4 separate regions of the Homo sapiens genome follow, and regions 2, 3 and 4 are each linked to region 1. The links come from fine-mapping of genetic effects on gene expression. A gene starts in region 1. Each other region holds a variant in brackets. All regions are shown on one strand. Distances are between the middles of the regions.

The links. PIP is the estimated chance that this variant, and not a neighbour inherited with it, causes the effect.
Region 2: its variant is fine-mapped to the expression of HEY1 in whole blood (INTERVAL, PIP above 0.99).
Region 3: its variant is fine-mapped to the expression of HEY1 in whole blood (TOPMed, PIP above 0.99).
Region 4: its variant is fine-mapped to the expression of HEY1 in whole blood (TOPMed, PIP above 0.99).

The regions. Positions count from the first base shown.
Region 1 is chr8:79,763,902-79,772,005 of GRCh38, reverse strand. It overlaps HEY1 (hes related family bHLH transcription factor with YRPW motif 1), which reads left to right and starts at 4,239. Exons shown (of 5, transcript NM_012258.4): 1 at 4,239-4,431; 2 at 4,712-4,787; 3 at 4,914-4,997; 4 at 5,274-5,355; 5 at 6,235-7,996. The coding sequence starts at 4,343. The coding sequence ends at 6,818. LINC01607 (long intergenic non-protein coding RNA 1607) reads right to left here and starts at 3,864. Exons shown (of 4, transcript NR_125410.1): 1 at 3,788-3,864. LOC101927040 (a long non-coding RNA gene) reads left to right here. Exons shown (of 6, transcript NR_110954.1): 5 at 384-439; 6 at 1,001-2,634. RefSeq lists silencers at 3,067-3,236, 3,337-3,696, 3,737-4,216 and enhancers at 4,667-4,716, 6,303-6,542.
Region 2 is chr8:79,843,003-79,851,106 of GRCh38, reverse strand. All of the region lies in intron 2 of LOC101927040 (a long non-coding RNA gene), which reads left to right. Among named protein-coding and RNA genes, the nearest start is that of LINC01607, 79 kb to the right of the region's middle. The variant A/G (reference allele first, on the strand shown) is at 4,611.
Region 3 is chr8:79,800,991-79,809,094 of GRCh38, reverse strand. It overlaps LINC01607 (long intergenic non-protein coding RNA 1607), which reads right to left. Exons shown (of 4, transcript NR_125410.1): 4 at 6,253-6,608. It overlaps LOC101927040 (a long non-coding RNA gene), which reads left to right. Exons shown (of 6, transcript NR_110954.1): 4 at 6,898-6,984. Among named protein-coding and RNA genes, the nearest start is that of LINC01607, 37 kb to the right of the region's middle. The variant T/C (reference allele first, on the strand shown) is at 3,397.
Region 4 is chr8:79,824,639-79,832,742 of GRCh38, reverse strand. The region is part of intron 2 of LOC101927040 (a long non-coding RNA gene); the gene reads left to right. Among named protein-coding and RNA genes, the nearest start is that of LINC01607, 61 kb to the right of the region's middle. The variant T/A (reference allele first, on the strand shown) is at 3,731.

The DNA.
Region 1 (8,104 bases):
AGCTGCAGGTGTAGCCTCTGGTCCTCCTGAGCACTATGTCCCATGCCTGTTCAATTGAGATCACCTGCACCCACCAGCAAACTGACAGAGACAGGGCCTCATGAAGGGTATCCAAGTAGGGACCTCCACAGTGGCCAAAGCTCTAATGAATGAATAATTGACGACTGGGGCTTCCTCAAGGCCAGTCTCACACCCAGCTACTGGTTGCATCCCTTCCAACAAGCTGGCCACCCTAAGCCTCGTTCATAGAGAAATGCTGCAGCTGGAGTTTGAGGATGAGCTGTTCCTCCCTGGAGATTCTACCACTTTTCCTCTGGGGAGGCCCTCACCTGGGCCTGGCCTTTCGAGTGAATTCCTAAATCTGGAGTGTCTCTCTCTTCCAGGACATCTGGAGTATCTCTTCTGCAAGGGAACGCAGATAAAAGCAGCCTGCGGAACGGTAAGCTAAGTAACTGAACCCAGACTCTACAAACCAGGCAAGAAAATAGGCCTTTGAGCGAAATAAAAAAGGGTGATTCTTCAGGAGAGACGAATTATAAAAGGCAACACTTGCCCACTTCCCCACCCCCAAATGGTAAAAGGTCCTTTTCCTGAGGGGCCAGGCCTGGGCAGTCCCATTTAAGTTGCAGAAGGGGTCAATTTGCAGGACGTACCTTTCATTCAGGGTAGCAAAGATGTTTAAAGTCGTTCTTCACTCAAAGCCTCCAGGGGTAAATCCCTTCTACACAGCAGATGGGAGAAAATTGGGCCTGGTGCCCTCAGTGTAACTCTCTCCTCTGATCCCACCACTCAAGGAAGAGGTCTCCGCCCCTTCCTTCCCGGTTATTACTGAACCACCTAGTTCACCTCTTCTTGATCTTAAGTCCCTTCCAAACTCAGAACAGGCCTTCCCAGACCTCATAAAGAATCCTCACCCCCTCGTTTTTCCTTACCAACAAGTGCTTCCAAGCACTGGAGCATCCATAACTACTTTACTGTGTATTCTCTGTCTTCTCCCTAGGATGTGAGTTCTAGGAGTGCAAGATGGATGACTTTTGGGTCACCTTTGTGTTTTCAGGCCCTAGCACAGCACATGGCACATAGAAGAATACGTATTTATTGGAAGCATTGAAAAATCAGTCAAACTTAAGAAGCAAGACAACCTCATTTGTAATTTTTTTAGAGACAGAGTCTCATTCTGTTACCCAGGCTGGAGTGCTGTGCAATGATCATAGCTCATTGTAGCGTTGACCTCCTGGGCTCAAGCCTCGGCCCCCAGAGTAGCTAGGACACAGGCCACCATGCCCGGTTCATTTTTAAATTTTTTCTAGAGATGGGGATCTTGCCGTGTTGCCCAGTCTGGTCTGGCACTCCTGGCCTCACGCAAACCTCCCACCTCAGCTTTCTACGAAGCTAGGACTACAGGTGCATGCCATGCCTGGCTAATTTTTAATTTTCTTTTTTAAGAAATGGGGATCTTGCTATGTTGCCCAGGCTGATCTGGAGCTCCTGGACTCAAGCAATCCTCCTGCCTCAGCCTCTCAAAGTGTTAGGATTACAGGTGTGAGCCACTGCGCCTGGCCGTAGAGAACCTCCTTTTTGACATAAAAGTAATCATGAACATGTGAGCAATATTTCATTTGGATGCCAATGTAGAGTTAAGCATCCCTAACCCCACCCGGTCTCGTCTCACTCAACATCTGCAGCTTGTCCACGCCTCTCCACAGCAGCAGAAATGAGCCAAAGCAGGAAAGGCTGACTCATTGTAGGTGCCAGAGGCTGGGAAAATCTATAGAGCCAGAGGGGAAGTAGACACGTTGGTTCTGGGGAAGGGTGGCCTGTCACTTTGGGGAAAGAAATGGAAGGTCAGAGGGACTTCTGGAAGGCAGAGGGGAGCAGGTGGGATGGTTTCCTATGCCTGGACCATCAGTTTCTGGGAGGGAAGAGGCAGGAAGTAGTGATGGATGCCCTGGACTGAAGACTGGGAGGGCCAGGAAGGAGCCTTAAAATTTGCACTTCCAGAGAGAAAGTCGGCTGGTGGGATTGACCTCGGACTGACAACTAACAGGCAGCATGCGGTGGAGTTTCAGGAAGCCAGAGGTCTGGGGTGCCAGCAGCAACAAACCCAGGCTGGCTGATGGAAGGGCCCAGCCTAGACAGGGAAGCAGAGGGGCTGCATGGAAAGGCTCAGGGCTGGAGGTGATGTGAAGTGGAATAAGCTTCAGTGGGAGCCAGGAGGTTGTATTTCCCGTTGGGGGCGGTGGTGGAGGGATGGGGGTGCCCAGAGAGGAACTATGGATTAGGCCCAGGCCGGCCACTCAGAGTGCTTGGCATCCAGGATGTGTTAAGATGGCATTGAGGCCGAGCGCGGTGGCTTAGGCCTGTAATCCCAGTACTTTGGGAGGCCAAGGCAGGCGGATCACCTTTGGTCAGGAGTTTGAGACAAGCCTGGCCAACATGGTGAAACCTCGTTTCTACTAAAAATACCAAAAACAATTAGCTGAGCATGGTGGCGCGCGTCTGTAATCCCAGCTTCTGGGGAGGCCGAGGCAGGAGAATTGCTTCAACCCGGGAGGCGGAGGTTGCAGTGAGCCGAGATCGCGCCACTGCACTCCAGCCTGGGCGACAGAGTGAGACACCATCTCAAAAAAAAAATAGCATTGAGATCAATAAGGAAGTCTAGAAACCAGGAAGCTTTTTGCAAAGAGAAAACGCCTTTTGTTATTCTCACCGATGGATATTAAGCTTTCCCTCACAGACAGGACTACAAGCTTCAGAGTGGATCTGAGATGAATGCGAATTGCTGTGTACCTTTGTAAGGGACAGAAGACCGGATTTTCAAATTTAAAACAACCATTCTGTTTCTGGAATCAGAAATCAGTTTCGAGATTTACAACTGTATTTTTTAAAAAATCTGTCTTCTTAGTGGACTCGGGGGGGACTTCACGTGGCACCCAGTACACGCCACGCCAAGCCACCGAAGCCAGAGGTGTGTGTCTGGGGCCAGAGACGTGCATTCCCTCAGCAAGGCCGGCCTCAGACGCAAACGCCAGCACCGCCACCCTGTCGCCCGCTGAGAGGATCTGGCCGCCGGGGGGAGGGGGCGGGGGGGGGGGCAGCGGGGGAACAACAAAAAAATCCCAGCATAATGATTATTCCCAGGGACCGTTGGGTTTTTTTTTCCCCAAGGCGGCCGAAAAAACAAGTGCTCCCCTTCCCCGGAAATGAGATGCACAGGGGTATTCATTCCATTCCGCGGCTGGGAAGCCCCTGCGGAAACGAGTCTGGCTGCATGTGCGGCCTCGGTCCCAGAAATCAAAAAGAGCGTCCCCTGAGCCCACAGCTTGCTCCTCCATGTGACCGGCCCCTGGGCTGGTGGCCACTGTGGACGCGCCCGGCGCCCCCTCTCCCGGCTCCCTGCGGGTTCCGCGGAGCCGCCGGCGCGCAGCCCGGCCAGGTGCACCCGGCACGGCCCCACTAACAGCGCGCGCCTCCAGCCGCCGGGCACTGGCGGCCACGCGGGCGAGATTTACGGTGGCGCTAGGCGGCGGCTTCCGAGGCCGGCCGGCGCCCAGGCTCCGATTACAGGTTCACACTGGGGGCCCGGCCGGCGGCCGCCCAGCCCCCGCCGGCGCGCCCTCGCGCGGCCCGGCTCCCCGCCTGCCCATTCTTCTCCATTCATGCGGACGCCCAGCGCCGCCGCCGCCGCCGCCAGCGCGGCCGCCGCCGTCGCCGTCGCCGGCCGCCCGGATTGGCTGGCGGCCGCGGCGCCGGCACTTTCCCACGGCCCGCGGCGCGTGCGGCTCACCGGAGGCGCTGCAGGCTCGGCCCTGGCGCGCGGCCAGGCCAATCGGGGCGCGCGGGGCGGGGAGGAGCCGCGGCCGCCGGCGGGCTTGTGTCCCGGCCCGGCCTCCCGCGCCTCCCCGCCGCCCGCGCCTCCTCCTTCCCCTGAGTGCAGGCTGGACAGAGCCCCCGCGGAGCCGACGCACCGCCGCCGGGCAGGGGCGGGCGCGGAGGGCGGGGGCGCGGTCCGCTAGAGCCCTCGGCCTCGCTCCCGCCCCTCCCCGGAGCGGCTGCCAATCAGCGGCGCGAGAAACCGGATTGGCCGGGGGGCGGCTGTTGCCCTGGAGTTGCCGCCCCGCCTCTCCGCCCCCTCGCCCGCCTTCCCCACTCCCCCGCCCTCCCCAGGGCCCTGGGAAGGGGCTCAGCGTGGGAAAGGATGGTTGAGTTTTAACCAGAGGCAAAGCGTGAGCGGGATCAGTGTGTGCGGAACGCAAGCAGCCGAGAGCGGAGAGGCGCCGCTGTAGTTAACTCCTCCCTGCCCGCCGCGCCGACCCTCCCCAGGAACCCCCAGGGAGCCAGCATGAAGCGAGCTCACCCCGAGTACAGCTCCTCGGACAGCGAGCTGGACGAGACCATCGAGGTGGAGAAGGAGAGTGCGGACGAGAATGGGTGAGCTGGCGGCGGCGGAGCGGAGCCGAGCCAGAGCGGGAGGCGAGCGCAGGCCTGCCGCGGTGACAGCGGGCTAGGACCCTTGGCGCGCCGGTGCCCTGCGCTGACCTCCGCGCGTCGCAGGCTGGCGGCAGCCTGCGGCCAGGGAACCCCTAGGTGCCTTCCAGCCCAAGTGGCAAAAAAAGTCTGAGTGCGGGGAGGGTGTGGGGGCGACCTCTCAGATCACCTCTCCTCGTTTAACGGCGATTTCAGTTTTTGTTTGTTCTTTTTCTCTTTTCAGAAACTTGAGTTCGGCTCTAGGTTCCATGTCCCCAACTACATCTTCCCAGATTTTGGCCAGAAAAAGACGGAGAGGAGTGAGTCTCTTTACACTCTCCTTTTATTTTTGTTATTGATTAACGGAAATAACCACCTTTTTTTTTGTCTTTGAAATTTACAGTCGTAATGGTAATGCCTTCCTTTGTTTTGCTTGCCTTCTGCAGATAATTGAGAAGCGCCGACGAGACCGGATCAATAACAGTTTGTCTGAGCTGAGAAGGCTGGTACCCAGTGCTTTTGAGAAGCAGGTAATGGAGCAAGTAGGTAAAGCTCTCAGCATAGCTATCTGCACCTTCTGAATCTTCCCCTCATTAATCTCATCCGCCTTGGAAAATAGCTGTGTTGCTTGTGCCTAGATGAATTCGTACACAGATACCAGCGTATTTTGTGAAGACAACTGATTTTGCTTTAGTCCATGCTTTACGATTTACAAAGCATGTATCTTTGTATATATGTTTGCATATTTTAAATTGTTCCCCAAAGGAACTTGTGCCAAATCAATCTTTTGCCATTCTCATCTTTAGGGATCTGCTAAGCTAGAAAAAGCCGAGATCCTGCAGATGACCGTGGATCACCTGAAAATGCTGCATACGGCAGGAGGGAAAGGTACATCTCCTAGACCTAGTGGGGGCTCTGAATGGTTGGCAAAGAGTGAGCAGCGGCTGAAGGCCAGGATTGGTGCAGTAGCTGCCTGATTTTTCTTTGGGGGTGGGGAGAGAACGGTGTGTGGTGTGTGCAGTTCCCTGTCAGTACATTTTCGAATGCACATAGAATCTTCTCCAGTGAATTCACCACCCCAGCTCTCTGCGGATTGAGCTAGTGCATCTTTTGGAAAAATACCTATTATTTGTGAGGTCTTCAAAAGTTGTGACAGCCCTGATTCAGATCAGGTAGCTTTCACATTTGTCCATTGCTATTTTGAGAAAAAGCATTTAAAAACAATATGTGGTCTTATTTTTGGTATACGGGATTTTAAAAAAAAGGTGCTGCCACATGCCTCTTGAGGAAAGAAATGTATTCTGGTTAAGTAAAGGAAACCTAACGGGAGACCAAGGTCTGTGTGTATGTCTCTCCAGCAGGAAAATGCTTTACTGAGGTCCAAGTGCCTAAAAGCTCCGCGATGATAACTTACATCTGTGTGTCTAATGAATTTCACTGCTCTGTGGTTTCTCTGCCCTTGATGTATTTTTTGTTGTTGTTGAGGGAAAACATTAAAGGAATGAACATAGTTTCATCTGCTGGTAGGGTATAATTCCAATTTCTGCTCTGCAGCTTCTAATTGGGCTTTGAACTTGCATTAGCAAACACATTCTGCTTATGTTGATTAATGCAAAGATTTTTGTTGATTCCAAAGACTTTCGGAAGAACCCCTGACTGTTGTGTTTTAAGGGATGCAGGTATCTGCCAGGAAGGGCTGTCTCTGGGACTTAAGAAATGAGGGAAACGGGCAAAGCCCTGAGATTTTTCTTTTGTTCTTTTGCTTAGGTTACTTTGACGCGCACGCCCTTGCTATGGACTATCGGAGTTTGGGATTTCGGGAATGCCTGGCAGAAGTTGCGCGTTATCTGAGCATCATTGAAGGACTAGATGCCTCTGACCCGCTTCGAGTTCGACTGGTTTCGCATCTCAACAACTACGCTTCCCAGCGGGAAGCCGCGAGCGGCGCCCACGCGGGCCTCGGACACATTCCCTGGGGGACCGTCTTCGGACATCACCCGCACATCGCGCACCCGCTGTTGCTGCCCCAGAACGGCCACGGGAACGCGGGCACCACGGCCTCACCCACGGAACCGCACCACCAGGGCAGGCTGGGCTCGGCACATCCGGAGGCGCCTGCTTTGCGAGCGCCCCCTAGCGGCAGCCTCGGACCGGTGCTCCCTGTGGTCACCTCCGCCTCCAAACTGTCGCCGCCTCTGCTCTCCTCAGTGGCCTCCCTGTCGGCCTTCCCCTTCTCTTTCGGCTCCTTCCACTTACTGTCTCCCAATGCACTGAGCCCTTCAGCACCCACGCAGGCTGCAAACCTTGGCAAGCCCTATAGACCTTGGGGGACGGAGATCGGAGCTTTTTAAAGAACTGATGTAGAATGAGGGAGGGGAAAGTTTAAAATCCCAGCTGGGCTGGACTGTTGCCAACATCACCTTAAAGTCGTCAGTAAAAGTAAAAAGGAAAAAGGTACACTTTCAGATAATTTTTTTTTTAAAGACTAAAGGTTTGTTGGTTTACTTTTATCTTTTTTAATGTTTTTTTCATCATGTCATGTATTAGCAGTTTTTAAAAACTAGTTGTTAAATTTTGTTCAAGACATTAAATTGAAATAGTGAGTATAAGCCAACACTTTGTGATAGGTTTGTACTGTGCCTAATTTACTTTGTAAACCAGAATGATTCCGTTTTTGCCTCAAAATTTGGGGAATCTTAACATTTAGTATTTTTGGTCTGTTTTTCTCCTTGTATAGTTATGGTCTGTTTTTAGAATTAATTTTCCAAACCACTATGCTTAATGTTAACATGATTCTGTTTGTTAATATTTTGACAGATTAAGGTGTTGTATAAATAATATTCTTTTGGGGGGAGGGGAACTATATTGAATTTTATATTTCTGAGCAAAGCGTTGACAAATCAGATGATCAGCTTTATCCAAGAAAGAAGACTAGTAAATTGTCTGCCTCCTATAGCAGAAAGGTGAATGTACAAACTGTTGGTGGCCCTGAATCCATCTGACCAGCTGCTGGTATCTGCCAGGACTGGCAGTTCTGATTTAGTTAGGAGAGAGCCGCTGATAGGTTAGGTCTCATTTGGAGTGTTGGTGGAAAGGAAACTGAAGGTAATTGAATAGAATACGCCTGCATTTACCAGCCCCAGCAACACAAAGAATTTTTAATCACACGGATCTCAAATTCACAAATGTTAACATGGATAAGTGATCATGGTGTGCGAGTGGTCAATTGAGTAGTACAGTGGAAACTGTTAAATGCATAACCTAATTTTCCTGGGACTGCCATATTTTCTTTTAACTGGAAATTTTTATGTGAGTTTTCCTTTTGGTGCATGGAACTGTGGTTGCCAAGGTATTTAAAAGGGCTTTCCTGCCTCCTTCTCTTTGATTTATTTAATTTGATTTGGGCTATAAAATATCATTTTTCAGGTTTATTCTTTTAGCAGGTGTAGTTAAACGACCTCCACTGAACTGGGTTTGACCTCTGTTGTACTGATGTGTTGTGACTAAATAAAAAAGAAAGAACAAAGTATTCTGTGGTGTATGTCTTACATACCTTGGCCTTTCCCCCTCTTGGCTAAGAAAAGATAAACTTTCCTTGGTTTTCATTTTGCCTGATTGGTTTGTATGTTTACCAGTT
Region 2 (8,104 bases), 79 kb before region 1:
GTTAACTGTTCCTTAGAGGCCTTGTCTCCAAATATAGCCACACTAGGGGTGTTAGGACTTCAACATATGAATTTTGGGTAGACACAGACATTCAGTTCATAATACATGTGTTTTTTTTTTAAGGAAAGCTTTATTCTATTTAATATTTTCTTGTTATTTTGACAAGGTATGCAGTTCTAGGTGAGAAATAATTTTCTTTTGGAATTTAGAGGTCATCACTCCATTTATTGTTTTGGGTTGCTTGCCTTGTTCCTATTGAGAAGTTTGAAGTCATTCTGATCTGTAATCATTATTACAAGAACTGTTTCTCCACATTGCCATTTGTAAAATCTTTGTCCTCAGTCTAAAATTTAACTGTGATATGTTTTCTTGTGGATTTATTTTCATTCATTGTGCTGGCACTTAGAGGCCTTTCTCAACCAGAAACTCAGATAAATTTTGTTGAACTCTTTCTTTGATTATTTTCTTTCCTTTCTTCTGAAGTTCTTTTATTCTAGAACTTAAATTTTCACATATTGTACCTCCTGGATTGATCCTTAATTGTCTTCTCTCCCCACTCCCTGCCTTTTCCATCTTTTTTAATTTTTGTATTATTCTGGGAGATTTTTATAGCTTTAACGTCTAAACTTTCTACACAGTTTTTAATTTCACATGTTTTAAACTTTTAAATTCAAACTTTTTTATTTTTAACTTGGGAAATAAAAATTATATATATTTATGGTATACAACATGATGGTTTTGATATATGTATGCATTGTGGAATGGCTAAATCAAGCTAAATAACTTCATATTTATTTAATTTCAAAAGGCACATTTTTGCTTTTTGGATGTTTCTTTTTGTTGTTATTTTATATCATTTTGCTTCTATTTCTCAGATGTGATTTTTTTAAAACTCTTAGAAGATATTAATCTAAAATGTTTAAAGTCATTCAAAATTTTTTCTTTGGCATGCATAGTCTTGAGTTCCTCTAAGACACTTTTTCTGTGTGCAGACTCTGAAAGGATCTGGCTCTCGCCTCTCATTCCCACCCCGTTTTGGGTGCACAGACCACCCTTTTAGAGCCATTGGCCTAATTGCTGTGGCTGCAGTGAGGGCAACGTCAGTGGAATGGGTGGTAGAGGAAGCAAGAGTGCAGTGGGGAGAACTAAATGGAGAAGTGATGAAGATAAGGAGGGCAGGCCTTCCAGGGCACTTGTTCATAGCTCATAGAGATCAGCAATTACAATTGGATAATTACTAATTGCAAATTACAGACATTTATAAGAAAGTAGCTCAATTTAGAATAAGGTATCAAGAAAAAGATACAATTTGATATCTCCCTGAAATTCAACCATCAGTTAACCTTGCCTGTTCTAGCTCTATTTTCATCTCAGATGCAGAAGAAACAATCCTTCCTGACTCCATCTTTTCTGAGAATCAGTGCCTTTTAGGACACATGAGTTCTCTGTCTCTGGATTCAGAGATACAACGTTGCAGGGTACTTGGTCAACAAAGAGCTGGATTTATGGCTTTTTCCAGCCTTTACTCATACAAAACCTCCTGGAAATAAAAGGCACTCTTGTGCCTTGTGGGCATTTCAAATTTGCTGTGAACATTCTTTACTGACTATGAGTACTTTTCTGTTTCATAAAGGAGAAAGGGCTTTCTGCTTTATGATATGAGAATTGGAAAGAAAAACTACTTTGTGTTTGGTTTTTACCTATTATCTTGTTTAAAAAAACTTTTAAGTTCATGGGTACATGTGCAGAATGTGCATGTTTGTTACATAGGTAAACGTGTGTCATGGGGGATTGTTGTACAGATTATTTCATCACCCAGGTATGAAGCCTAGTATCCTTTAGTTGTTTTTCCTGATCCTCTCCCTCCTCCCACCTTCCACCCTCTGATAGGCCCCAGTGTATGTTTTCTTCTTCATGTGTCCATGTGATTCTCATCATTTAGCTCCCAATTGTAAGTGAGAACATGCCATATTTGGTTTTCTGTTCCTGCATTAGTTTGCTAAGGATAATGGCCTCCAGCTCCATCCATGTCCCTGCAAAGGACAGGATCTCCTTCTTTTTAATGGCTGCATAGTATTCCATGGCATATATGTACATTTTCTTTATCCAGTCTATTATTGATGGACATTTAGGTTGATTCGATGTCTTTGCTATTGTGAATTGTGCTGCAATGAACACACGCATACATGTGTCTTTACAATAGAATGATTTATATTCCTTTCGGTTATACCCAGTAATGGGATTGCTGGGTTGAATGGTATTTCTGTCTTTAGGTCTTTGAGGAATCACCAAACTGTCTTCTAGAATGGTTGAACTAATTTACACTCCCACAAACAGTGTATACACATTCCTTTTTCTCCACAACCTTGCCAGCATCTGTTAGTTTTTGACTTTTTAATAATAGCCGTTCTGACTGATGTGAGATCTCATTGTGGTTTTGATTTGCATTTCTGTAATAATCAATGATGTTGAGCTCTTTCTCATATGTTTGTTGGCCGCATGAATGTCTTCTTTTCAGAAGTGTCTGTTCATGTCCTTTGTTCATTTTTTAATGGGGTTGTTTGTTTCTTCTAAATGTAAGTTCCTTGTAGAGTCTGAATATAAGTTCCTTGTAGAGTATATAACTGGATTTAAGTTCCTTGTAGAGTCTGTCAGATGAATAGATTGAATAGATCTATTCTGTCTAAATAGGTCTAATAATCTGTCAGATGTAGATTAAGTTTCCTGTAGAGTCTGAATATAAGTTCCTTGTAGAGTATATAACTGGATTTAAGTTCCTTGTAGAGTCTCTCAGATGAATAGATTGCAAAAATTTTCTCCCATTCTGTAGGTTGTCTATTCACTCTGTTGATAGTTTATTTGGCTGTGCAAAAGCTCTTTAGTTTAATTAGATCCCATTTGTCAATTTTTGCTTTTGTTGCCATTGCTTTTGGCATCTTCATCATGAAATCTTAGCCCATGCCTATGTCCTGAATGGTATTACCTAGGTTGTCTTCCAGGGTTTTTATAGTTTTGGGTTTTACATTTAAGTCTTTAATCCATCTTGAATTAATTTTTGTATATGGTATAAGGAAGGCGTCCAGTTTCAATTTTCTACATATGGCTAGCCAGTTATCCCAGCACCATTTATTGAATAGGGAATCCTTTCAATAAGGATGGTTTTTGTCAGGTTTGTTGAAGATCAGATAGTTGTAGGTGTGTGATCTTATTTCTGGGTTCTCTATTCTGTTTCATTGGTCTATGTGTCTGCTCTTATACGAGTACCATGCTGTTTTGGTTACTGTAGCCCTATAGTATAGTTTGAAGTCAGGTAGCATGATGCCTCTAGCTTTGTTCTTTTCGCTTAAGATTGCCTTGGCTATTTGGGCTCTTTTTTGGTTCCATATAAATTTTAAAATAGTTTTCTCTAATTCCATGAAGAATGTCCGTGGTATAATGGGAATAGCATTGAATCTATAAATTGCTTTGGGCAGTATGGCCACTTTAGCAATATTGATTCTTTCTATCCATGAGCATGGAATGTTTTTCCATTTATTTGTGTTATCTCTGATACATTTGAGCAGTGGTTTGTAGTTCTCCTTGCAGAGATCTTTCACCACCCTTGTACTGTTACAATACAGGTATTTTATTATTTTTGTGGCAATTGTGAATGAGAATTGGTTTGTGATTTGGCTCTTGGCTTGACTGTTGGTATATAGGAACATTAGTGATTTTTGCACATTGATTTTGTATCCTGACACTTTACTAAAGTTGCTTATCTGCTTAGAAAGCTTTTGGGCTGAAATGAGGGGGTTTTCTAGATAATAGGATCATGTCATCTGCAAAGAGGGATAGTTTGACTTCCTCTCTTCCTATTTGAATGCCTTTATTTCTTTCTTTAGCCCGATTGCTCTATCCAGAACTTTCAATACTATGCTGAATAGGAGTGGTGACAGAGGGCATCCTTGTCTTGTGCCAGTTTTCAAGGGGGATGCTTCCAGCTTTTGCCCATTCAGTATGATATTGGCTGTGGGTTTGTCATATATTGCTTTTATTATTATGAGGTATGTTCCTTCAATACCTAGTTTATTGAGAGTTTTTAACATGAAGGGATGTTGAATTTTATTGAAAACCTTTTCTTCATCTATTGAGATAATCATGTGGCTTTTGTAGTTCTGTTTCTGTGATGAATCACATGTATTAATTTGTGTATTTCAAACAAACTTTGCATCCCAGGGGTGAAGCCTACTTGATCGTGGTAGATAAGCTTTTTGATGTGCTGGTGGATTTGGTTTGCCAGTGTTTTGTTGAGGACTTTTGCATCAATGTTCATCAAGGATGTTGGCCTGAAGTTTTTGTTGTTGTTGTATCTCTGCCAGGTTTTGGTATCAGGATGATGCTGGCCTTATGGAATGAGTTAGGGAGGTATCCCTCCTCCTCAATTTTTTGGAATCATTTCAGTAGGAATGGTACCAGCTTTTCTTTGTATATCTGGTACAATTCAGCTGTGAATCCATCCGGTCCTGGACTTTTATTTGTTGGTGAGCTATTTATTACTGCTTCAATTTCAGAAGTTGTTACTGGTCTGCTCAGCGATTACATTTCTTCCTGGTTCAGTCTTGGGAGGGTGT[A/G]TGTGCGTAGGAATTTATCCATTTCTTCTAGATTTTCTGGTTTACATGCATAGAGGTGTTCATAATATTCTCTGATGGTTGTTTGTATTTCTGTGGGGTCAGTGGTAATATTCCCCTTATTTCTGATTGTTTATTTGAATCTTCTCTCTTTTCTTTTTTTATTATTCTAGCTAGTGGTCTATTTTATTATTTTTTTTCAAAAATCACTCCTGGATTTGTTGATCTTTTTAATGATGTGTTTGTGTGTGTGTGTGTGTGTGTGTGTGTGTGTGTGTGTGTGTGTGTGTTTATGTGTGTCTATCTCCTTCAGTTCAGCTCTGATTTTACTTATTTCTTGTCTTCTGCTAGCTTTGGGATTTGTTTGTTGTTGGTTCTCTAGTTCTTTTAGTTGTGATGTTAGGTTGTTAACTTGAGATCTTTCTAACTTTTTGATGTGGGCATTTCGTGTTATAAATTTCCCTCTTAACACTGCATTAGCTGTGTCCCAGAGATTCTAGTCTGTTGTATCTTTGCTCTCATTAGTTTCAAAGAACTTCTTGATTTCTGCCTTAATTTCATTATTTACTCAAAAGTAATCGTGTAGGCTGGGTGCAGTGGTTTGTGTCTATAATCCCAGCACTTTGTGAGGCTGAGGCAGGTGGATCACTTGAGGTCAGGAGTTCAAGACCAGCCTGGCAAACATGGTGAAACCCTGTCTTTACTAAAAATACAAAAATTAGCTGGGTGTGGTGGCACGTGCCTGTAGTCCCAGCTACTTGGGAAGCTGAGGCACAAGAATCACTTTAACCCAGGAGGCAGAGGTTACAGTGAGCTGAGATCACACCGCTGCACTCTAGTCTCACCAACAGGGCAAGACTCTGTCTCAAAAAAGAAAATGTCATCTTATTAGTCTGTTCTCACATTGCTATTTGGAAATACCCACCCAAGACTGAGTAATTTATAAAGAAAAGAGGTTTAATTGACTCAGTTCAATATGGCTGGGGAGTCCTCAGGAAACTTACAATCATGGTGGAAGGGGAAGCAAACATATCCTTCATATGGTGGCAGCAAGGAGAAGTGCCAAGCAAAAGGGGGGAAAGCACCTTATAAAGCTATCAGATCTCATGGTGAACTCACTTACTATCACAAGAACAACAGCAGGGGAGTAACTGCCCCCATGATTCAATTATCTCCCACCGGGTCCCTCCCATGTCATGTAGGGATTATGGGAACTACAATTAAAGATGAGATTTGGGTGGTGACACAGCCAAACCATATCAGTCAATCAGGAGTGGGTTATTCAATTTCCATGTAACTGTATGGTTTTCAGTGAATTCCTTAGTCTTGAGTTCTAATTTGATTGTGCTGTGGTCTAAGAGACTGTTATGATTTCAGTTCTTTTGCATTTGCTGAGGAGTGTTTTACTTCCGATTATGTGATTGATTTTAAAGAAGGGTCATGTAGTGATGAGAAGAATGTAAATTCTGTTGTTTTAGGGTGGAGAATTGTATGGATATCTATCAGGTCCGTTTGATCCAAAGCTGAGTTCAGGTCTTGAATTTCTTTGTTAATTTTCTGTCTCAGTGATCTGTCTAATATTGTCAGTGGGATGTTAAAGTCTCCCACTATTATTGTGTGGGAGTCTAAGTCTCTTTGAATGTTTATAAGAACTTGCTTTATTAATCTGTGTGCTCCTGTGTTGGGTACATATATATCTAGGATGGTTTGCTCTTTTTTGTTGAATTGAACCCTTTACCATTATATATAATGCCCTTTTTTGTCTTTTTTGATCTTTGTTGGTTTAATGTCTGTTTTGTCAGACTAGGAGTACAACCCCTGCTTTTTTTCTGTTAAAGTCTGCTTTTGTCAACTAGGATTGCAACTCCTGCTTTTTTCTGTTTTCCATTTGCTTGGTAAATTTTCTTCCATTCTTTTATTTTGAAACTATGTGTGTCATTGCATGTGAGATGGGTTTCTTGAAGACAGCATGCCAATGGGTCTTGGTTCTTTATCCGGCTTGCCATTCTGTGTCTTTTAATTGAAGGCATTTAGCCCATTCACATTTAAGGTTAGTAGTATTGTTATGTGTGGATTTGATCCTGTCGTCATGATGCTAGCCGGTTATTTTGCAGACTTGGTTATGTGGTTGCTTTATAGTGTCACTGGTCTATGTACTTCAGTGTGGTTTTGTAGTGGCTGGTAACAGTTTTTCCTTTCCATATTTAGTGCTTCCTGCAGGAGCTCTTGTAAGGCAGGTCTGATGATAAAGAATACCCTCAGCACTTGCTTGTCTAAAAAGGACCTTATTTCTCCTTTGCTCATGAAGCTTGGTTTTGGTGGCTATGAAATTCTGTGTTGGAATTTCTTTTCTTTAGGAATGTTGAATATTGGGCCCCAATCTCTTCTAGCTTGCAGGGTTTCTGCTGAGAGGTCCACTGTTAGTCTGATGGGCTTCCCTTTGTAGGTGACCTGGCCTTTCTCTCTGGCTGCCCTTAACAGTTTTTCTTTCATTTTGACCTTGAGGAATCTGATAATTATGTGTCTCAGGGATAATCTCCTAATGGAGTATCTTACTGGGGTTCTCTGGATTTCCTGAATTTCAATGTCGGCCTGTCTAGCTAGGTTGGGGAATCCTCATGGATAATATCCTGAAATACGTTTTCGAAATTGGTTCCGTTCTCCTCATCTCTTTCAGGTACACCAATCAGTTGTAGATTTGGTCTTTTTACATAGTCCCATATTTCTTGGAGGTTTTGTTCATTCCTTTTCATTCTTTTTTCTCTATTCTTGTTGCCTGTCTTATTTCAGAAAGACAGTCTTCAAGCTCTGAGATTCTTTCCTCTACTTGGTCTGTTTTTCTATTAATACTTGCAATTGCATTATGAAATTCTTGTAAGGTGTTTTTCAGCCCTATCAGGTGAGTTACATTCTTCTCTATACTGGCTATTTTGTGTATCAGCTCCTGCACTGTTTTATCACGTTTTTTAGCTTCCTTGCATTGGGTTACAGCATGCTCCTTTAGCTCAATAAAGTTCATATTTATTCATATTCTGAATTCTATTTTTGTCATTTCAGCCATCTCAGCCTCAGCCCTGTTCTGAACCCTTGCTGGAGAGGTGATGCAGTCATCTGGAGGAGAGAGGGCATTCTGGCTTTTTGAGTTTTTAGCATTCTTGCACTGATTCTTTCTCACCTTTGTGGGCTTATCTACCTTAAATCTTTGAGGTTGTTGACCTTCAGATGGGGCTTTTTTTCTTTTAACAGTCTAGCCACTTTTCTATAGGGCTGGTGCAGTTTGCTGGGGGTTCACTCCAGTCGCCAGTCACCTCAGATTTTCCAGTACCTGGAGGTATCACCGGTGAAGGCTGCAAAACGGCAAAGATGGCAGCCTTCTCCTTCCTCTGGGAGCTCCATCCCAGGGGGTATGGACCTGTTGCCAGCCTGAACACACCTGCAGGAGGTGGCTGGAGACCCTGGTTGGGAGGTCTCACCCATTCAGGAAGAATGGGATTGGG
Region 3 (8,104 bases), 37 kb before region 1:
GTTGCAGCACCTGCATCTCCTAATCTCTTCCCTTTAGCCCTCCTACACTTTCACATCCGAAGGCGTCCTGCATTCTTTCCAATGCTGACCTCACTGCCCCAAACTCTCCCCGCCCTAAGCAGGCACTAAATCCTAGGCCTCTACTCTCCTCCATGACCTTTCTTTGCCAACTATCTTCTTTCCTGTCTTCACTACTTTCCTCCTTCCTCCCTTTGACCTACTTATAATTTCTTTTTTCTTTCTTTCTTTTTTCTTTTTTTTGAAATGGAGTCTCGCTCTGTTGCCCAGGCTGGAGTGCAGTGGCACAGTCTTGGCTCACTGCAACCTCTCCCTCCCAGGTTCAAGCAATTCCCTGCCTCAGCCTCCTGAGTAGCTGGGATTACGGGCACCTGCCACCACGCCCGGCTAATTTTTGTATTTTTAGTAGGGATGGGATTTCACCATTTTGGCCAGGCTGGTCTTGAACTCGTGACCTCATGATCCACCTGCCTTGGCCTCCCGAAGTGCTGGCATTACAGGTGTGAGTCACCGCGCCCGACCTTCACTTACAATTTCTAATCTTCCCCCTCTTCAAAGATAAAAGCAACTTCCTTCACCTTCCCTTTCTTCTCAGGCTGCTGTGCTAGTTCTGTCCTTTTCATTCTGCCTATGTGTCTTGAAAAAGGAGCTGCACTTGCTTGTTGTGCACCGTTTGCTCCACACAGCCTCAATCTATGTCCACCCGCTGCTTGACCACACTTGGTCTCAGTTACAGGATCAATGAGGGAGAACCACCCGGGCGTGCATCCGGCTGTCCACCTTGCTAGATGTACAGCCTTGGACAAGTTACCTCCCTCTCTGTGCCCCAGCCTCCTCATCTGAAAAATGGGGATAATGATACTTTTGCTTCTTAATCAACATAATAATGAAATAATAACAGAATGATAATTTGATTAGATTCTGGTAAGGTTAATACATAAGAGGAGGTGCAAAGAGAGTGAACTAATAATAGACAAAAATAAAAAAGGATTCATTCCATCTCTCTGGAACGCCCTTATCTCCCATCTGATACCCAGTAGGTCCCAGTGAGTCATTCTCATCCCAGTTTACAATTGCCTTCTTCCTCAGATCTCTCCTGACTGTCCACCTCCGCCGACGTGAATGGTCTCTTTAACCCTGGTACTTAGGGAATTTAACCTTAGTGCTTCTCACGTGGTGCTGTCTTTGCCCTGTCTTGCTCGGCAGTTAGTCATAAGCGTGTCCCATGTCCTCCACATCCCTGTGACATCTCGCAGGCCAAGGGTCTGTTTTACTTGTATAGTAGTGTGCTAGAGCAGCCATCACAAAGGACCACAGGCTGGGTGGCAAAAATTAATTTTTTCACAGTTCTGGAGGCTACAAATCTGAGATTAAGGTGTTGGCAGGGCTGTTTTCTCCCGTGGCCTCTCTCCTTGGCTACAGATGGCCGTCTTCTCCCTGCGTCTTCACATCATCTTCCCTTTGTGTTTGCCTGTGTCCTAATCACCTCTTCTTATAAGCACACAGTCAGACGGGATTAGGGCACACCTGTATGACCTCATTTTCACTAAACTATCTTTTTTTTTTTTTTTTTGAGACAGAGTCTGGCTCTGTTGCCCAGGGTGGAGTACAGTGGTGTGATCTTGACTTGCTGCAACCTCCACCTCCCGAGTTCAAGTGATTCTCCTGCCTCAGCCTCCCAAGTAGCTGGGATTATAGGTGCCAGCCACCATGCCCAGCTAATTTTTGTATTTTTAGTAGAGACAGGGTTTCCCCATGTTGGCCAGCCTGGTCTCGAACTCCTGACCTCAGGAGTTCGCCCACCTCGGCCTCCCAAAGTGCTGGGAATACAGGGGTGAGCCACCGTGCCCGGTCTTACTTAACTATCTTTTTAAAGACTCTTTTTGGCCAGGCTCGGTGGCTCACACGTGTAATCCCAGCACTTTGAGAGGACGAGATGGGCAGATCACGAGGTCAGGAGTTCAAGAACAGCCTGGCCAGCATAGTGAAACTTCATCTCTACTAAAAATACAAAAATTAGCTGGGCATGGTGGCGCACGCCTGTAATCCCAGCTACTCAGGAGGGTGAGGCAGGAGAATTCCTTGAACCCAGGAGGCGAAGGTTGCAGTGAGCCAAGATTGCGCCACTGTACTCCAGCTTGGGTGACAGAGTGAGACTCCATATCAAAAAACAAACAAACAAAACAAAAACAAAAAAACTCTTTTTTCCCAAATACAGTCACATTCTGAGGTACTAGGAGGTTAGGACATTGGCAGATGAATTTGCTGGGGGTGGTGTCACAGTTCAGCCTACAACACTTATTTTTGATAGCACACAGTATGTAACATGGTGCCAGCCACATTTGTGTCCTTAATTAATTAAACAACCTGGGAAGAAACCAGGGAAGGGGAAACAAGTCAGGAAGTAGAGAAAAGTAATCCCTAAAATCTGTTTCCCATACGATCTTGGGGAAATAGTGGAGAAAGCAAGAGAGGTTATTCTTCACCTCTAATGTTTTCCTTTCAGTCACACATCCTCATACAAGAGGATTATTTCATTAGACTTGGGTTTCCTTCTGCTTGCAAAATGATACCCCTGGGAAGGATGACATAATAAAAAGACAAAATGGAGCAAGGCAGATTCTGCTTTTGTTGCTCACAACGATGATACCTTTGTGGCCTGGCACATAGTACATGTTAGTGATTGTTGGTTTTACTCTTATTGTTATTACCATGACCATGATTATTATGGATTCTAAGTTCTATGAAGACAATGATATTTATTTTTTCATTGCTGTACTCTCTGGCCTCACACAGTACTTAGTAAAAAGTAGAAGCTCAACATATTTGTTAAATAAATGGACATAACCTCTGAGGTTCTCTTTCCTCATCTCTAAAAAGAACTAATATTTATTGAGCAATTACTATATGTGAGGTCTTGTGCTACCTGTTTTAGATGGATTATTTTATTTAATCCTCATAGCAATCGTGTGAGGTAAGTACTGTTTTTATTCCCAGTTTTCAGATGAAGAAAGTGAGGCAAAGAGAGTTAAGTAACTGGTCAAGGTCACACAATTAACAAGCTGTGAGCTCTGACTTAGTTGTACTCAAACCTGAAGTACTAACCAATATATTATATTGCCTCCTTCATTTCTATAAAGAGGATAAAAATTCCCACCTCACAGGCTTGTTGAGAGGAATTAATGGGAATTTGTAAAGTGTCTAATATGCAGTAGGAGCTCAATCAATATCAAACCCTCTGCTTTACTCTGCACAACTTATGTTACTGTGTAGACAAGTGCTGTGGGATCTGTCCTCTAACTAAAAACTCTCCCCAAATCCTCTATTAACCCAAGCACCCTGCAGCTGCTGCCCCATTTTTCTTGCTTCCCTTCATAG[T/C]GAAATTACTCTGTACTGAAGAGATGTCTGTACTTCCTTTCCTCATCTCCCGTTTGGTCTTGATCCCAGAAAAATGAGACTTCTGCTTCTCCTCTCTTCTGAAACTGCTCTTAGCAAGATAACCAAATACACCCAACAAGTTCAATCCAACAGCTCTTTCCTGTTTCCTTTTTTTTTAACCTCATAGCATCATTCAACAGAGCCAATCACTCCCTCTTTCTTAAAGCTTCTTCTCAAAACTCCCTGATTTTGTTTTACTTCCCTGGATGCTCCTTCTTTGTCCCCTTTGCTAGTTCTGTTACCTCTGTTCTAAGTCTAAATGTTGAAGTATCAAAGTATCCCAGGCCTCAACATATATATATATATATATATTTTTTTTTTGAGACAGGTTCTTGCTCTGTCTCCTGGGCTGGAAGATAGTGGTATGATCATGGCTCATTGCAGTCTTGAACTCTTGGGCTCAAGCTCTCCTCCTGCCTCAGCCTCAGGAGTAGCTGGGACTACAGGTATGCACCACCACACCCAGCTAATTATTATTTATTTTTTGTAGAGACAGCATCTCACTATATTGCCCAGGCTGGTCTCCAGCTGCTGGCTTCAAGCAGTCCTCCCCACTCAGCCTCCCAAAGTGCTGGGATTACAGGAATGAGCCACTGCACCTGGCCTCAACTTCTTTATCTATATTCTCCAGCCAGGAAATCACATCCAGACCCATGACTTAAATGGCATCTGTATGTGGATGGTTCCAAATGTCTGTCTCCAGCCCTCATTTCTCCCTGGAGCTTCAGATTCATGTATCCAGCTTCCCATATGACACTGCCACTTGGAATTGTAATGGGCATCTCAGACATCACATAAAATACAATTGATTCAGCATTCCCTTCCTTTTCCCAACCTGGACCTCCTACATTCTTCCCCACTCATGCAGTGGCTCCATCTTCCACACAGTTTTTCAGAACAAAGATCCAGGAGTCACCTGTATCTCCCTTATTCTACATTTGCTCCACCAATGAGTCCTGTTGAAGGGTTTACTGCCAAAACATATCTCAAATCTATCTATCTCAAATCTCCTCCTTGGTATTAAAATAAAATTCAGAGTTTTAGGTAGGTGTAGAGGGTTCCCCAAGGTCCATCCCCCTCCCTCTAGGGCCTTCACCATGGTTGAAATCCCCCTCATTCATGGTGCTTCAGGCACATCTTCTCTGTTCCTTGAACATGGCTGACCTATTTCTGTCTAAGGGCCTTCGCACTTGCTATTCTTTGTGCCTGAAATTCTTTTCCCCAGATCTTTACATGGCTGGCTGCTTTTTATCATTTAGGTCTCAACTAAAATGTCATCTCCTCAGAGAAGACTTCCATAATCACATTGGTTAAAGTAGCTTTTTTTTTTTCTTTTGAGCTAGAGGCTCGCTCTGTCTCCCAGGCTGGAGTGCAATGGCGTGATCTCGGCTCACGGCAACCTCTGCCTCCCGGGTTCAAGCTATTCTCCTACTTCAGCCTCCTGAGTAGCTGGGATTACAGGCACGTGCCACCATGCCCAGCTAATTTTTGTATTTTTAGTAGAGACGGGGTTTCACTATGCTGGCCAGGCTGGCCTCGAACTCGTGACCTCGTGATCTGCCCACCTCAGCCCCCAAAGTGCTGGGATTACAGTCGTGAGGCACCACGACCGGCCTAAAGTGGCTTCTGACCCACAGCTGTACATCTCTCTAGTAGTTAGTAAAGTGTTTGGCTGCAAATAAGAACAAACTTAACAAAGGCCTAAATGGATGGAGCCTTATTTGTCTCAAACTGATGAAGATGTCCAGGGTAGTTAGGTGAAGGCTCTGCAGGGCTCAATAGTGACAGCAGGGATGCAGCCTCCTTCTTGCTTCCTACTCTGCGGTAGTCATTAACATCATGACATTCTTCCATATGATGATCACTCCATGATTGCAAGATAGCTGCTGTGCCTCTGGGTATTATATCTTTGTTTCAAACAAGGAGAAGGGAGAGTTTAAAGGATCAAAGTCTTTTCTTATGTGGCTCTGGCTCTGCATTTTATTGGGCAGGAAAGTGCTCCTCAGGGTATTTTGTTTGGAGCCATGGATTTGTGTCAGGCTGCTACTCTCTTAGCAGTAAGGGAGGTTGGGGAAACAAGCATTTCACCTTTCTGGCATGTACTCTAGAAACTGCAAGGGACAAGGGGGATGTGAATGACACAGGCCAGCAAATCCCAGCCACCTTTTGTGTTAGATTGTTCTGCGTAATTTTTTTCATCAAATTTGTTTTTTATAATTTTTTCATAAAATTTAGCTTTTAATTTTTTTTTTTGAGACAGGATCTTGCTCTGTTGCCCAGGCTGGAGTGCATTGGCACCATCTTAGCTTCACCTCCTGGGCTCAAGCAATAACCTTCACCTTCACCTCCTGGGCTCATAACCTTCACCTCCCAGGCTCAATCAATCCGCCCGCCTCAGCCTCCAGAGTAGCTGGGACTACAGGTGTGCACCACCATTCTTAGCTAATTTTTTCATTTTTGTTGTTGTGGGGGTCTCACTATGTTGCTAGGGCTTGTCTTGAACTCCCGGGCTCAAGTGGTCCTCCCATTTTGGTCTCCCAAGTGCTGGGATTACAAGCATGAGCCACCACATCAGGCCCAAAGTTATGATTATGTGAAATTATCTTACTATTTAACTGTTTTCTTACCTATGGAATGCTCTTATTTATGGTAAGCTACAGAAGAATAGAATACAGAAGAATCTCTTTTGTTTGAGGCTGTGACCAGAAGTCCCTGGCACATAGTAGGCATTCTATAACCATTTGTTGATTTTCAGATAAACAAGTGAACAAACAAAAGAGAAAATGTGCCTCCATGTTGCAAATAGATTTCTGTAATACATAATACATCCACAAAGCACTAGATAATCAAAGTTTAATTGTGAACATCCTATGCAAATTGCTGGCATGCCATGAGGATGCTGTTGAATGTGCTGTCCTTTTGATCTAAGGAATAATAGTGGTCCTGTTCACCACAGTTGCATTGGTAAGAGTGACGATGGTATCTTCTGTGAGGTCCACTCTGTCTCTTCAAGTTGTCTTTGTGACAGAGAGCTTGACTAGCAGAGTGTTCATGGGTCAGAGAGAAGCACAGTGTCTTCCCACAGGATTTAGCCACTGGCCATGTCTGGATTCATGGTCGAATTCACTAGACTTCCTGGACACATACAAGCCCTAGAATAGGACATAAAATACCAATGACATAGACACAGGCTTGGTCAGGTACATGCCAAATTTCTATGCCAACCCAAAGCTCTATTTATAAGAAAGGATTTTGTAGTGGCTTTCAAGCTCAAGGTTGAACATGGTCACTGTTGGAATCTAGACAGCCTGGTAATGGTTAGTGGGCTAAGAGAGTAGACTCCTTTGCAGAGGGCACTGAATAGCCTCACGGGAGTGCCTCAGCCTAAGGAAGAGGTGGCCTACTAAGTTCAGCTAATCTGAATGTCTTGGTGTCCAGCAGGGAGGAAGGAGAGAGTCTGAATACTGCTCCTTGTCCTCAGATGAGCTCTTCCTGTACTCATGTCTGGATCCAGAGGAAATAAGACATGTAAGTAAATATGGGAAGTATTTTCATTACAAAACCTCCAACTACAAAGCACAGTGTCATACTGCTTTGGTGCCTGTGTGACAAGAGGTTATACAAGGCGAGAAGGAGGTGCTCTTTCCCTTTCTTCATGGCTTACAGCCATGGCTGTGATGCACAGAGGGCTTCGGAGAACACAGAACCTCCTTAGCTTGTTGAGGTTTCCAGTGCGGTAGCCACATCTTTAGCACTTGTTCCTGAGCACACCGAAAACATCTCCAGGAATGCTCAGAAACAAGCAGGAGAGACCTGGAGGGGATGGAGTTCCTACAAAAGTGAGTAGGAAGGAGAGCTTGAGATGTTTGTTTCATTGTTTGTAATAGGAACCCATTTTAAACATTAGTTCCCATCCCCATCTCAGCCTAATGAAGCCCATAGAAAATGGGCTCATACATTTGTTGAACAAATATTTATTGCCAGGCACTGTACTAGATGCTGAAGATAGAGCAAGGAACAAAATAGACAAAGTCGTTACTTTCATAGAACTTACATTATACAGGGAGAGTCTTAGTCTATTGGGCTGCTATAGCAAAATACCATAACCCGGATAACTCATAAACAATAGAAATTAATTTTTCCCTGTTCTGAGGCTGGGAAGTTCAAGATAAAAGTGCTGGCAGATTCAGTGCCTGGTGAGGACCCTCCTTCCTGGTTCATCGACACTGTCTTTTCTGTATCCTCACATGGGAGAAGAGGCGAGGGTCTCTTGGGGGCCTTTTTTATAATGGCACTAAATCAGTTTGTGAGGGCTCTACCTTCATGACCTGATCACCTCTTAAAGACCCCACCTCCTCATACCATTATACTTGGGGTTTAGGATTTTAACAAATGAATTTTGGGAAGACACAACATTCAGCCCACAGCAAGGAGAGATAGAAAATTAACAGATTTTGATGATAAAATTGCTGGAAGGACTAAGAATTGGATATAAAAAGAAAAATTCATTGAGAATATTTCATCAAGAGTCAAAAGAAAAGTTTGGGGAGAATTAATCATAGGAGGAAGATATCAACTATTCTCCATCTGCACTTAAATGACTGCAAGTCATAACCAGCCTTTCTGTGAGCTACACCAGACCTTCCAA
Region 4 (8,104 bases), 61 kb before region 1:
CCAGGTGGATATTTCCAGCGGGCAATTGGAAATCCAAGTCCAGGGCTGAGGAAAGAGCTGGATTTAGGAGTCATTTATGTTTAGGAAGTTGTTGATACCTAGGATTTCTGCCTTTTTAAAAAATCATAATAATGCATGTGTATTTATATTTCTTATCTACAGCACAAATTAGATGACATGACACAGGATTTAAAAACTTTTTGAAGGGTTTACATATTTTCCGTGTCCTAAATGTGACTACGTCTTGTCAAGTGGCCAGGGAGAAGGTGAAGGCTGAAGTCAAGGTCAGGTTTAGGCTCTGGAGACAGCAGTTTTTGATTCTGATTGTGTTCCTAGAGTATCTCTCCATTTCTAAAATAGGGACACTTTAGTCTCGGTCCTATTTGTATTCAGACAGAGCTCCCTAGTCAGTGGCAGGTTTGGGGAACGTTTTCAGTGTCTATGGGATGTAGATTCAGGGGTGAGAGGCAAGCAGGATGAGGGGCTTGGTGCAGCTTCTGTCTCCTGCTCAGAAGTTTCCTCCCCCCACCCCTGGCCTTTCCTGGTCGGCATCAGTGAGCTCAGGGTCTCCTTGCAAGGGGGCTGGGCTCTCTGACTAGAGGCATGCTGCTGACCTAGAGATAATTAACTGATAGTTTCTACCACGACCTGCTGACCCCTTTATAGGAACCACTGTAAAGATAAAAAGACTTTCTGTTTTCTTTTTTCTTAGCATCTCCGGTGCCTGAAACCTTCACAGTCATCATGCTATTTCGTGTTTATCATTAATCTTCCTGTTGAAAGCATCCCCTTTTCTCCCCTCTTGTTCCTGCCCTGGCCCATTTGCAGTTCAGGTGATCGACCCTCTCAGAAAATGCTCCCTGTGAAGCCAAAATGTGAGTGAGTTAGACTGGGCCATTTCCAGCACGCCCCTCGTCACCCCGTGCCTGTGCAGTGTCACCTACTTCTGATAACAGCCTTGGACTGAGGGCGCAGGAGAGAGTGGTTTTATGCCACAGATACTTCATTCGTCAATGCTGTCTTCCAAATCTTTCTCCTCATGTCCATTATCACAGGCCTAGAACAATTGTTTTTATTAGACAGTTTAATACATTGCCTCTTAGACCAGCAGGCGAACCCGAGCATCTTTCTGACTCCTGTGCTGTCATTAACATGCTTCTTAATTCAGAACAGCTGTTCCTCCTCCCACTCCTCCTCTCTCCCAATCTTTGCTCCTTAGACAAACTTTGCTTATTCAGAAACTTTGGGAAAAAAGATTTTTGAGTAAATGAGAGTTCTGGAAACATAAGGATTTGTCTCTTTCAGCATGGACTTTTTAATTTTAAACATTTTTGATGAAAATCTTTCCAAAATACATTGTTTAGTACCTTCTTAAACAGAGAAAATGGATGAAATTTAATTTTTTTCTTGATGCCTTGGGATCATGACAGTGAACAAGATTTTGTTACTCTGCTGCAATGCAATAGGGCACATAAAGGGTCCCAAATTTTCAGATTCTGAAGTTATTTTGAAAACTTTTAAATATACTCTCGTCTCCCTGCTTTTCATCAGTCCATTGACCAATCACTCTGGTTATCAATGCACCTATTTCCAGAAATTCTTCTACCCTAATTTTCTGATGTTCAGTGTTTACTGTGAGCATAGAAGACCAATATAGACACACACTTACACGTGTGTGCATGCAGATGTGCATTAGAACTGTGTGTAGAGAGGTTTGAGGAGGTACCTGAGAGTTTCCTATGAGTAAATGGAATATGTTATGAGTTCTCTGTTTTGGTTTTCCAGAGACTGCTTTTGTTAAATTTTTTGCTCATTTTAGGAATAGAAAGTTGCAAGACAAATGAGTTTAATAATGATGAAAAGCTCCCAGATTTCTAGGAGCTATCTATCTTTCTAGAAAGTTCTTCCTCGGTTCATTTTTTTTTTTTTTTTCACTTAATGCAAGTATAGGCAATGGTTACTAAAAGGAGATTCCTTTTATGAGAGGCTTGTCATTTCATTATCCCAACTTCACATACAAATGATTTCATTATCTTTAAAAATGTTGTCGTGATATTCTCAAACTATTGTCATTTAAAAAAAAAACCCACCAGGTGCAAAAACAAACTGCAACCACAACAGCTAAATCTGTCTCTTTCTCTCATTGTCCTCTTTGGCAAAGATCTGTGGAAAGCTGAATAAATGAACAGGGCCATTTGACAGAGTGTAACCCACACCAGACCTGTTGTGCAATGCCTTGAACGTAAGTCCTTTTCAACTAAACGGAGGTATATTTTCTTTTATATTGTTGACTTTGACCCTGAAGCTTAGCAAAGAACACTTGTGCAACATTTTCTGGATCAATTTATCATCTGCTCAGAGCAGACATGCATTTTTTCTCATCATTAAAGGGAAACCAAACCCATCAACATAATCCCCGATTCTGCTTTGTTTCTTCCCAGTCCTTCACATTGTAGATTCTGAAATATTAATGAAGAGATGTGAAAGTAATGTGCTCTATTCTCACACCCAGCCCCAGTGGGAGGAAGGATATGGCCAGGGAGTAGGAGAATGAGAAATGTCCTCGTTTTGCAAAACAACGTTGCTCAAAGTCAGGTTGTTGGATTCTATCTCTGAATATCCCAAGGTGGTGATCTAAAATCCAGATTTCTGGGCTAATCTATACCTATGGAATCAATATTTCTGGAGGATGAGGCTTTGTCATTTACATTTTAAATGGATGCATTTAAAACTGATTGGACTAGATGGTGTCCGAGCTTTTTCCTTACTTAACAAATCCTATGCTGCTGGCTCTTATGTGAATACTGATAATAAACTGCTTACAGGCTGGGCATCATGGATCATGCCTGTAATCCCAGCTATTTGGGAGGCCAAGGCAGGAGGATCGCTTGAGCTCAGGAGGTTGAGACCAGCTTGGGCAACATAGTGAGAACCTGTTTCTATGTAAAAAAATTAAATTTAAAAATGTACTTACAGAATACTCATAATGAACTTTATTATTGTAAGAATAATAACTTTTGACTGTATAGCAGCATTTTTAACTTTTCAAAGTGTTTTCCTATTTTCCTATATATAACCCCCCAGAGGGGGGCAGGGGAGGTCTCATTACCTCCATTTTAGAGATGTAATAAAGTCCCCGAAGCTTAATGACTTGTGCCAACTACATCATAACTTAGTGGTCAGGAGTCAGGACTGGCACACAGGTCTTCTGACCTCATTTCACTGTACATTTGGTGTTCTAAGATCCAAGACACAAGAGGATGCTTTATTAAAGTGTCCTTTAAAAACGGACTTGAGCCGAAATCAGCGCCTTCCAAGCTTCTCCACATGCTGTTGAGTGTGCTGTGCATTTGCTCCTGAGAGACGAAAGCACAGATAAAGATGCCCTGCACACTGGGAGAGAAATGGGAATCTTCAAAACAAAGGAATCTCATTCCTCTTCTGTTCATCCCCTTCAATTTTCTGATCCTTTCCCTCCACTCCCTCTTTCTTGTAAAGACTTAAACTCTGAAATAATTATATGAAATTAAGTCGGTAAAAGCCAGGCTCGTTTCCTTAAGATTGATGTGTTAACATTTGGGGCAGTTTTCTCAGGACTCAGGGAGACGATTATTTCTGAGGTTGGCTGCGGGAAGCTTCCTCTTCTCTAGGGAGGGGTGAGGTTCCCTCCCAGGACACCTCCCTCCGTGACACAGCCTAACTGTTAGCAGAAGTTCATAAAAAAAGTTGG[T/A]TGATTTTTTTAAGTGCTGGAGACTTTTCTCCTTTTAATTCCGGTCATAACTACCCACTGTCCAAAAAAAGGAGACACAGCAGGCTCTAAACTCTCTCTGAGACTGAATGCAAATTGAGTGTCTGGGAGTCTGAGGGAGGTGCGGGAAACACTTTCCAGCTCCACTGTCCTGTTTTTATCTGTAGATCAAGATAAGCGAGCGGGTGGATTGTTAGCAAAAAGGAATCTCTTCATGCAAATTATAATTCTCTTAAAAAAAAATAAGCATGAAGGTGTGACCCTGCCTGTCACTTATCAATCTGTGCAGTAAAACTAATGGAAGGTTGGAAGACTGGGATCCTTTGCATTGGAAAATGGCTTGAGTGCCCGTGCTGAAGCCACGCTGAATTTCCCGTGTTCCTGCAGCAGCCTGGGAGGAGACCGGCAGGGTCACATTCTGGTGGTGCCTGCCTGCCCTGACACATCATTTCTAATTATGATGCCTTTGTAAACCCCTTCCCTTTTGCTTCATAGGGCTTGTAAAAGGTACCCGCAAACCTCTGCCTTCCTGTGCCTCTCTGCCCCGAGGTAGAAATCCTCCTCTTGCAGGAAGTGCAAAGCAAAGTTCAAAGCTTTCTTAGTCAAAAGAAAGTGCGCCTGATCCAGGATAACATGATTAGGCAACAATTAGACCAGAAAAAAAAAAAAAAAAAAAAAAGCCAGGGCCCTGCATCACTGGCCAGTGCTGGCCTTCTGCAATCTCTGCTCTTCTAAAAGATACTTATTATTTCCTTGTTCAGTATGAAGATGCAAACCCAAATTGAATACCATTTAGGGTCAAAGCCACAAGCAGCTTTGGGCTGTCAAGGGATGGAGAGCTCTGATGAGTCTGTGATGGAATGTCCCCACCAAACACAGAGGCTAAGGGATGGAGCTTAAGAGAGGGATGACAAAGAAAGGAAGCAAGGGTCCACAGACCCAGGGCAGGCCCTGTCGCTCTGGTGACTTTCTGAATGACTGCCAGACTTGTTTCCCCCCTATAAGACAAGCCCAGTTCAACCCACGTTAAAAGGGGGTTAAAAGAGGTCATAAATCTTTCTGGGCACTGAAGATCCATGGAAAACGTGGCCTGATGTCTCTGACATCTGTTTTGGGTTCTCAGCCTCAGCTGGCCCCACTGCCCTTTCTCCTGCGATGACTCACAGGCCCCATTCAGGCCACCGAGTGGCAGGTATAGAGTGTCTCACCTCGGAGTACTGGGGATGAGGGGTGAGCGTCCGGGCAGCAGGCGAGCCCCCAAGGCTGGCCCGCTGACACCGTAAGTCTATACCCAGGGGCTGGTGGAGGGGAGGCTGTGGGATTGATGGTGTAAATGGGCAGCACACACAGCCTGCAGAGGGGAGGCCGGCGGTGGGTGGGAGAGCGCTGGCTGAGGTTGGTCACACGGAGATTGAATTTCAGCTGAATTAGATCAGAGCTGTGGGAAACAGCACCTCCTTCACACACACAGCCGGTCTCATAGGAAGATGTGGGAGGGCGGCTGGGGAGACAGAGGCAGGCAGCTGCGATGAAATACCGAAGTCCGCTCACAGCAGCTAACAGCTAACTTAATTACTCTACTACCTCTCCCCAGCGCACTGGCCAGAATTCGCAGACCCTAGGGTTTTAGACTGAAACGCTCCATGGTGCCAGGGAAAGATGGGGTGGTCAGCATTTAAAACACACCATGGTTTGGGAGTGAGGCTGCGTGTCTCTCTAAAGGAGGAAAAGCGTGATTATGAAAGTACAGGAAAGGCAGGGAACTTTTAGATCCACAGCTGCAGAAGGCAAACTCCGGAAAGGACTTACGTGGCTTTCACTGCTACCTTTAGGGTTTGATGTTTTATAGCATTTTATTAACATGCAACGCAAGCTCTCAATACCGTAACTGTGTTCGCTGCTGCTGCTAGGAACTGTTCCTCTAATCCCCTTTCTCTGCTTAATAACCTGACGCCATTTCAGTGACCCAGAATACCAGCTTTTCTTGGGAGGCCTTGGAGGAGTGGAAAATTGGGAGAAAGTTTTAGAATTAAAATGGGAACACTTGCAGTCCTATTAAAAAGGGCAAGAAGTCAGCTGCTTTGAAATCCACCCCCTCAGCAGGGGTGGGGAAAGCCTTTCCAGGAGACAGTGGGAACACATTTGTTCCCTAAGCTGGCACCAGAGTGGCTTTCTCCAGGGCAGCCAGGGCCTGGCATTCTGTATACGCCATTTGAATCAGGGAGCCTTCAAATGATCCTTTTTTCTCTTCCTGTCACTCAACAACAGGCTGGCGGCAAAAATTTCTACGGCAGTTTCTCTTGAACCAGGCAGAAAACAACCCCTGAGGCTGCTCGGTGCTCCCTAGTCTCCTGGTTTGCATTGCACATCCATTTTGAGCCTGCTGCTACTGATGAGAAAATGACCTCAAACAACTGCCCACTAAAGGTCCCATGTTGTGACGATGCCGGGGGCTTTCTGCATAGCGCTCCGCTTCTCAGACTGAGCAGCTTCTGGAGTTTTGTACAATGCCTGGGCCTGAGGAAACCTGCCAGGATATTCCTGGTAGGATGAATGATCACCCCCCCGTAACAGACAGAGACACCCAGAGCAGAGACAGAGTTCACACTGTGGGATCTGACTCAATGTTTGAATTCTTAGGAGCTCACCACTTCATTGGATTTCTCATGACTGAAAAAAAGAGACCACTAGAATCTGGATGAGATGAGAATTTAGGTGCTGTTTTAGATTCCCCTAGATTAGGTGGATACCCAAAAGAGTGTGTGGAAAAACTGCAGGGAGGGCCGGGCGCGGTGGCTCATCCCTGTAATCCCAGCACTTCAGGAGGACGAGGCAGGCGGATCATCTGAGGTCAGGAGTTCGAGACCAGCCTGACCAACATGGAGAAACCCTATCTCTACTAAAAATACAAAAGTACCCGGGCATGGTGGCACATGCCTGTAATCCCAGCTACTCTGGAAGGCTGAGGCAGGAGAATCGCTTGAACCCAGGAGGTGGAGGTTGCAGTGAGCCAAGATCGCACCACTGCACTCCAGCCTGGGCAACAAGAGTGAAACTTGGTCTCAAAAAAAAAAAAAAAAAAAAAAACCTGCAGGGAGTCTGAGTCCTCTGAAATGGGATGAAAAATTTATATGTAAAAATTGTGTATATTTCCTCCAGCCCCAGGAAGAGAGCCCTGTGTATTCTGTTGGACAGATCTGCTGATTTTCAAGTTTCCAAGACTCCTCCAGACTTAAGAAGTACTGTTTTATATTAAATATTTTGCAAAGGTAATTTTAAGAGGGAGCATTGGTTTCCCTCAATCACAGGCTCTGCAAAATACAATGCGCTGTCTACTGTATACTTTGCCACATGGAGCCTGGCTGCTTGACTCATGTAACTCAACGTAAACAGTAACTGGGAGAGGACACACACGAGCAGGCAGGGTATGCCCACAGGGTCGCTGCTTGACATGGCTATGCTGCGGCTAGCGTATGGCTCTCCCTTGGATGGATCTATTCTGTTAATACCTCTGTCCCAGAATTTGTAGTCCCAAAGTGGTGCTCTGGGAGGACGTATTAATGAAAAGAAAGAGCATAAATGAGAACCTTAAAGAGTTTACAGGGTTCAGGCTTGATAAACCTCTTGGGTAAGAAAGGTAGGTAGATATAGAGCAAGATTTGCATCCATCACATTGGGAAGAATGTACACTGGCCTGTGGGTACAAACCCCTTTCTGCCAGGTAGGGAAGGTTCTTGGGGGAAAGGTGGTTGTCATAATACATCTTAAACAATAACAAAGATAACAGAATCCCATAGTTTCCCTTTCTGGAGTTGATGTTTGGATGCAAATTACAGGCATGTTTTGCCTTAAACAAATCCAGTGTTAGGCCGGCGCGGTGGCTCATGTCTGTAATCCCAGCACTTTAGGAGGCCAAAGCAGGCAGATTGCTTGAGCTCAGGAGTTCAAGACCAGCCTGGGCAACATGGCAAAATCCTGTCTCCACAAAAAAATACAAAAATCAGACCAGGCACGGTGGCTCATGCCTGTAATCCCAGCACTTTGGGAGGCCAAGGCAGGTGGATCACAAGGTCAGGAGTTCAAGACCAGCCTGGCTAACATGGTGAAACCCTGTCTCTACTAAAAATACAAAATTTGCTGGGTGTGGTGGCACACACCTGTAATCCCAGCTACTTGGGAGGCTGAGGCATGAGAATTGCTTCAACCCAGGAGACAGAGGTTGCAGTGAGCCAAGATTACGCCATTGCATTCTAGCCTGGGCAACAAGAGCGGAAACTCCATCTCAAAAAAAGAAAAGAAAAGAAAATCCAGTGTTGATGAGTTGATTTCCCAAAGCAGATGAACTGGGAAGTTGGG